Linked DNA regions of Homo sapiens. The protein of the gene in region 1 interacts with the protein of each later gene in a pairwise test. Each region holds a gene or a part of one and is shown on either strand. Other genes may lie near its edges.

The links.
Region 2: the proteins of NTRK3 (region 1) and NELFB interact in a two-hybrid assay, tested with the Homo sapiens proteins (one study listed by BioGRID).

Annotation. Positions count from the first base shown.
Region 1 is NC_000015.10:88,138,160-88,141,968, reverse strand, and holds part of NTRK3 (NT-3 growth factor receptor isoform a precursor), read left to right. Parts: intron 1-3,809. UniProt on the Homo sapiens protein: Receptor tyrosine kinase involved in nervous system and probably heart development.
Region 2 is NC_000009.12:137,265,284-137,269,092, forward strand, and holds part of NELFB (negative elongation factor B), read left to right. Parts: intron 1-593; coding exon 594-696; intron 697-1,047; coding exon 1,048-1,143; intron 1,144-1,660; coding exon 1,661-1,803; intron 1,804-1,956; coding exon 1,957-2,063; intron 2,064-3,809. UniProt on the Homo sapiens protein: Essential component of the NELF complex, a complex that negatively regulates the elongation of transcription by RNA polymerase II.

The DNA.
Region 1 (3,809 bases):
CCACAGTTCTTTTGCAGTTTCCCATAAACTCAGTTGGAACAAAGGACCAGGTTTCAAGGTGCATCCCATCTGCTGGATCAGGTCCTGTAAGCAGGACCCTGGGGGGAAAGGATGGAAGGAAGCAGAAAATTTGTACAAAGCCTTTGCCTGGCAGCATCCTTGGCACATCCCAAACATCTCACCTAATTCTCTGGCCAGCCTCAGGACATTCTCATGCTGTCTGCCTTTGGGGGGCCATGAGATGCTGGGATGTGCAGCAGTGCAGGGACCAGACAGGAGGCAGCACAGCATCAAGTGCTGTGTGGCTTGCGGCAATGCAGCCAAGCCCCTCGCCTGTCTAGTCTTTTCCACCCAGGTGGATAATTTGTATTTTTACACCTACTTAATAATGAATGACTGCATCTTGTCAAGTGAGCAGCTGGGAAAACCAGGCTGACCTGGTTCAGTTCACATATATTCAAGCATCTGGACCCTCCTTGTCATTCTAGCAGGGTGGCCAGGCCTCTCCTTGCAGCCCCTGCAGTGTGAGCCCACACTGCTCCACCTCCTCTGGCCTATCTTTCCTGCATACACTGGGCAGCTCATCTGGCCTTCTGCTCTTCTTGTCATGAGGGTTACGTGAAGAAATGCGTGGAAGACATTTAGTCTAGTGTTGGCACTACGGCAAGTGCGATGCTAATATTATGATCCTATAATGTCTATTATGTTCGTCTCATTTTTTCCTGTCTACCTTTTCTCTTTTCTGTGTCTCATGTCCAGCTACACAGACATCTTGACATAACCCCAAGGCAACACCTCCAAGGCTTCTTGACTTGATCCTTCCCTTTCCCCTTCTAGGACCTTGGTCTGTCCCTCCCCAGCCTCACCCCCATCCCAACCTCATTCGTAATGTGTCCTCTCTTCCTTTCTGCTGGTTCTTTTCTTTCTCTTCTGTTTTCAACCAAAGACAGTTCTCCCTGCCGTTGATTTCCTGTCTCTTGGAGCTTAAAATCTTGGGGTCATCTTTTGCTTTTTCCTCTTCTTTTATCCCCTACAAAGCACCACGTACCATTTTGCCTTCCTTGTGATGTTAACTGGATCTTCTCTTCCCTCTCTCCAGTTTTTCCCACTCCACTCTAGGCCCATATTAACTAGGCAGCAGTTCTCAAGTGGTGGTCCAGGGTGTCCTGGGGGGGCCCTAAGACCTTTTCAGGAGACAATGAAATAGAATCTGTTTTCATAGTAACACTGAGCCATTATTTGCCTTTTTCACTCTCATCCTCTCATGAGCATACCGTGGAGTTTTCCAGAGGCCACAGGACGTGATAACATCATTGCTCTGATGATGCATGGAGTTTGTGCTAATGTATTCTGGAGTTTTACATCTTTCTCAGTGTTAATTTCTAATTGGTAGATACTGATAGATATGACTCACATAAACAACAGCTCTTTGAGGCCGTCAGTAGTTTTGTTTGAGAGTGAATGGAGTTCTGAAACCAAAAGTTTGAGAATTGACCTGGACCCTGCCAGTCTATATGGTGCCTATGTGTGAGTTAGAAAAGATGCCCCATCTGGGTGCATGTAGCCACGTGCCAGGGTTACAGCTGGGTCTGGCCAAGAGTGTACAGAGTGGATTTTATCCTCTGTCTATCCCTTTGGTTGAGTACTTTGAGAAATGCTCAAACTACACAACTGTACGTGTTGACCCTGTGTTTATAAGCAATCTTAACCAGCTTCTCAATCTCTAGTTTTCCTCCTCTCCAGCTTATCCTATACACTATTGTTGGATTTCTCTTTTTACAGACCTCTTTGTTCACATTGTTCTCCAGTTCTAGAGGCCTCAATGGTTTTCCCTGCCTCCTGGATGAATTCCAAATTTCCTGATGTGGCAGTAAAAGTCCTCTCTTATCTGGCTTCCACTCGCCCTTCCAGCTTTGTTTCCCAGCACTCCTTGACACATTTTCTGTCCTGCTAAGCCTTTCTTTTCTGTTTTCACACCTCACCTACAACTTCCCTTTGCCTTTGTTACTTCCTTCTACTTACCCCCACCCCCCACACTCCCCCCCTCCCACCCCAACATGGTCTTTGCCTATATGAGCTCCTGAAGTCAGGGCTCCTAGCTTGCTCCTCTCTGCTTCTCTCTTGCACCCAGCAATGCCTTGCACATGACAGATGGGGTGGAGAGTGCATGAGTTTTGAAGTCCAGCACACTGAGGTTTGAAACTGTGCTGTCTTGCACACCAGCCAAAGACCTTGCACATGTGACTTAACCCCTCCAAACATCAGAGAGGGCCCCTCCCTCCTTGCAGTTCTGACCATCTCCCAGGGTTGTCGTAAGAAGCAAATGCTCAGTAAGGGTTAGTTCTTTCCCTTCACCTTTCTGACAGAGTACCATGTGCAGAGAGTACTTTTAGGCTAAGAGGATGATACCACATAGGGGTATTTGCACATTCTGCCTCCGGTGTCCTAGTAACTAGAAAGCACTGATTCTTTTCCCCAGGAGCCTCACGTTTTCCTGAAAGCTGATTAATTTTGATGCATGCTTAACTATTTTGGAGTTTTCCAGTTGTCAAAAATATCCTAGGTCTTAGTGCGGTGTGCCCAAGTGCCCCTCCCTCTGGTTTCCAACAGATTCATCTCCTTGATGGTCCAGAAAGAGAATCATGTTTCCTCTAATGATCCAGGCATTCAGATTTATCCGGTGCCCTTTACTCTGAGTTTTGGATTGATTAATGCTGTTCATTGTCTCCTTAATAATCCCATTGAGAGGGGAGGTGACTTGCTTCAAGTCATAAGGAAAATCAGTAGAGAAGGAAGTCCTTGAAGGTGACTCTTCCCCTATCAAACATTCTTCTTCACCAGGCTGAGTGCTCCTGGAGGACAGGGACTGTCTTCTTCATCTCTGTGTCAGCAGCACTCAGCCCATGGCCAATTATGGAGCAGGTGCTTATTAAGAATTTATTGAATTTATGAAAGAATAAAGCTGGTCCCAGGATGGGCTTTGAGCATATCTTGGAAATAGATAACCACCTACTCCCCCAGGGACAGTCAGTCAGTCTCGTTCTCTCTTTTTCTCTCTTTCCTTTAACAAGAATTTATATGCCAGGCTCAGTTCTAGGTTAGGGAATGAACAAAACAGGCAATGTTGCTGACCTCAATGGAGTTTAATTTTTATTCAGGGAGACAGATAAACAAACTAATTAAAAATAAATATTTAAAGTGATGCCAGTAGTGATAAATTCTAGAAAGACAAATATAGCATGGCAAGGGACTGGGCAGTGTTAGACTGAGAGAGCCAGCCTTGTAGAGATGTTGGGTAAGAGCTTGGCAGGCAGTGGAAACAGCAAGTGCAAAGGTCCTGGGGTAGGAACAAACCAGTCAACAGGTGACCTTGCAGACACCAAGGTCAGTGTGGCTGAAGAGGAGGAGGGAGTGAGGGAAGATGAGGTCAGAGATGATGGAGAATGGTGCAGATTATTTAGGGCTTTGACTTTGATTTTCAATGAGATGGAAGGCCATTGGAGGGTTTTAAGAAGAGGAGCATCTCGAGCTGATATCTCTCTCTTTTTTCTTTTTTCTTGAGACAGAGTCTTGCTCTGTCGCCCAGGCTGGAGTGCAGTGGTGCAATCTCGGCTCACTGCAAGCTCTGCCTCCTGGGTTCACGCCATTCTCCCGCCTCAGCCTCCTGAGTAGCTGGGACTGCAGGTGCCCACCACCACGCCCGGCTAATTTTTTGTTTTTGTATTTTTAGTAGAGATGGGGGTTTCACAGTGTTAATCCGGATGGTCTCGATCTCCTGACCTTGTGATCCTCCCACCTCGGCCTCCCAA
Region 2 (3,809 bases), on another chromosome or scaffold:
GACAGGCGTGAGCCACCACACCCAGCCTTTTTTTTGTTTGTTTTTTTAACTTTTTAATTTGAAAAATCTTTGAATAGGTTAAGGACAAATTGCAAACCTTAAGCTTTTTTTTTTTTTTTTTTTGAGACAGAGTCTCGCTCTCTTGCCCAGGCTGGAGTGCAGTGACGCGATCCTGGCTCACTGCAAGCTCTGCCTCCCGGGTTCAAGTGATTCTCCTGCCTCAGCCTCCCGAGTAGCTGGGACCACAGGCGACCACCACCACGCCCGGCTAATTTTTTGTATTTTTGGTAGAGACAGGGTTTCACTTTGTTAGCCAGGCTGGTCTCAGTCTCCTGACCTGGTGATCCATCCGCCTCGGCCTGCCAAAGTGCTGGGATGACAGGCTGAGCCGCCGCGCCCGGCCTGCCAAAGTGCTGGGATGACAGGCTGAGCCGCCGCGCTCGGCCATCCTTAAGCTTTTTGTAAGAAACCCAGCATGTGATGGGCACCCGCTGCCAGTCCTGAATTCAGCCTAGGCCACCCCTCCTGAGGACTGTGCCGCTGAAGGGAGGGGCAACAGGCGTCGCATTAATGCCAGGGCGGCCTCCTTCCAGGGACCTGTCCATGATCCTGTGTGACCCCTTCGCCATCAACACGCTGGCACTGAGCACAGTCAGGCACCTGCAGGAGCTGGTCGGCCAGGAGACACTGCCCAGGGTGAGTGTGGGCTTGGCCAGCAGCTGTCGGGGCCATGCGGCCACTCCGCTGGCTGCTCTGGGTGGTCAGGGTGTGGACAGCAGCGGCCAGGTGGAGGCAGCTGTTGGGGCCCTGTGGCCGCCCTGCTGGCTGCTCTGGTGGTCGGGGATGTGGACTGCAGTGGCCCAGGTAGAGGCGTGTGCTTCCCCGCTGTGAGACTGCGTTTCACCCCGTGTGTGGGGCTGGTGATCGCAGTCGTGTGGTCCTGGCCATGGGCACCAGAGATCCTGCTGAGTAACGAGTAGGGTCAGAGGAGCTCCATGGCCAGGACACAGCTGCCTGGGAGAGGCGCTGAGCCCGTCCTCCCTACAGGACAGCCCCGACCTCCTGCTGCTGCTCCGGCTGCTGGCGCTGGGCCAGGGAGCCTGGGACATGATCGACAGCCAGGTCTTCAAGGAGCCCAAGATGGTAACGAGCCTCCTGTGGGGGCTGCCAGTTTCCTACGAGGGGTTGTGGGCTGGAAGTGGGGTGGAGGGGGAGGCGCTAGCAAGGTGATTGTGGAGGCCCCTTTGGTCCCAAAGCTTCCTTCCTGGAGCTGCCCACCTTCCTTTTGGGAAAATGCCCACCAGGGAGGTTCTGGGGTGTCTCCGTGGACCCTGGCTGGTTCTGGGGTATCTCCATGGCCCGTGGCTGGTTCTGGGGTGTCTCCGTGGACCGTGGCTTGTTCTGGGGGTGTCTCCATGGACCATGGCTGGCCACAGGTGGTGACTACTCCATGTGGGTCCAGACCTAGAAGGGGGTTTGAGGAGATGGCCTGGGTGGGGGACTCGGGAGGTGGGAAGAGGGACCTGGGGACCTGGAGAGGAGGGAGGGTCGGTGAGGTATCTGGGGGAGTGGGAGGGCCAGGGGCAGGGTGTGTGTCACGTCAGGGTGGGGTGGGGCAGGGCCCGGGCCCGCGCCCGCTCATGGCCTCCCCTCCTCGTAGGAGGTAGAGCTCATCACCAGGTTCCTCCCGATGCTCATGTCCTTCCTGGTGGATGACTACACTTTCAATGTGGATCAGAAACTTCCGGCTGAGGAGAAAGCCCCAGTCTCATATCCAAACACACTTCCCGAAAGCTTCACTAAGTACGGGCTGTAGGGCCATGGTGCAGGGGTGGCCGTGGCGCAGGGATGGCACTGTTGCCCAGGGGGCTGCCTCAGGGCTGGGCAGGGGTCGGTGTGGGGCTGAGGTGGGGCTGAGGTGGGGCTGAGGTGGGGCTGATGGCGCCCCGGGCGCAGGTTTCTGCAGGAGCAGCGCATGGCCTGCGAGGTGGGGCTGTACTACGTCCTGCACATCACCAAGCAGAGGAACAAGAACGCGCTCCTCCGCCTGCTGCCCGGGCTGGGTAAGTCCTGACGGGCGGTGCCTGGCTGTGTCTTCCCTGCGGCAGCTGCCGTATGCAGTCCTGCCCAGGGTGCGGGCCCCAGGGCCCCCAGGAGCTGCCTTGTCTCCCCAGCCCACCTCCAACTTTGCTAGCTTTGTTTTCACCTTTTTTTTTTTTTTTTTTTTGAGATGGAGTCTTGCTCTGTCGCCCAGGCTGGAGTGCAGTGGTGCAACCTCAGCTCACTGCAGCCTCTGCCTCCTAGGTTCAAGTGATTTCTCGTGCCTCACCCTCCTGAGTAGCTGGGATTACAGGCGCGTGCCACCGTGCCAGGCTAATTTTTGTATTTTTAGTAGAGACGGGGTTTCTCCATGTTGGTTGGGCTGGTCTCGAACTCCTGACTTCATGATCCGCCCGCCTCGGCCTCCCAAAGTGTTGGGATGACAGGTGTGAGCCACCACTCCCAGCCTCGTTTTCACTTTTACTTTTGTTTGTAGTTTATTTTACTAGGAAAGGGAGAGGGAGTTCAACTTTGTGCTTTCCCACAAAAAGGTGATGTAAGAGCTGTCTTTATTTCATCCTAACTGGCGAGGGGCTTGGGACCCCTCAGGTGCTCAGAGAATGGAGCAAAGGGGAGGGAGAGAGATCCCCTGCCCCAGTGCCCCACCCCAGGTGGTGACAGGCCCACTTCCTCCTGGGGGCCTTGACGGGGGAGGGGTTGTTGCAAGCCAGGAAGAAGAGGAAGGGTCCAAATGGGCACCTTCAAGAGTAGAGCTGCAGGTCCCCTGGGAGATGGGGCCTCTTTAGCCTGCTGTGGGTCCCATGGGAGATGGGGCCTCTTTAGCCTTGCGGTACCCACTGTGACACAGACCCTGGGCTCTTCCTTGCTGACTCAGGCCTTGTCTGGGGTTTGCTGTCTTAGTCCACGTTATGCTGCTCTAACAGAGACTTGAGACTGAGTAGTGTAGAAAGGGCAGGGACGGCCGGGCACGGTGGCTCAGGCCTGTAATCCCAGTGCTTTGGGAGGCTGAGGCGGGCGGATCACGAGGTCAGGAGTTCGAGACCAGTCTGGCCAACATGGTGAAACCCTGTCTCTACTAAAAAAATACAAAAATTGGTTGGGCATGGTGGTGGGTGCCTGTAATCTCAGCTACTTGGGAGGCTGAAGCAGGAGAATCCCTTGAACCTGGGAGGTGGAGGTTGCAGTGAGTGGAGATTGCACTATTGCACTCCAGCCCAGGCGACAGAGCGAGACTCCGTCTCAAAAAAACAAAGAGCAGGGACTTCTCCCAGTTCTGCGGGCTGGGATGGGAAGTCCGAGGTCAAGGGGCCTGCATCTGGCTGGGGCTTTTTGCTGTGTCATCCCATGGTGGAAGGCAGAGGGCAAGAGAGCACGGGCAGGGGAGACAGACAGACACAGACAGAGATGAGAGACAGAGACACACAGACCAAGATGAGAGACAAAGATGAGAGACACAGAGACAGAGATGAGACACAGAGAGATGAGAGACAGGTAAGAGAGACAGAGACAGGAGAGACATGGAGACAGACAGATGAGAGACACAGGACAGAGACAGATGAGAGACAGAGCTAGAGATGAGACACAGACAGACGGAGACAGAGAAGGGGCCACACTTACCCTTTTATCAGGAGCCACTCCTGTGCTAACAGCGAGAACGCTTTGGTGAGGACGGAGCCCTCACGACCTCAGCAGTGTTGCGTTGGGGATCAGGTTTCCGATGGTGAACTTGGGGACACGTCCACACCACA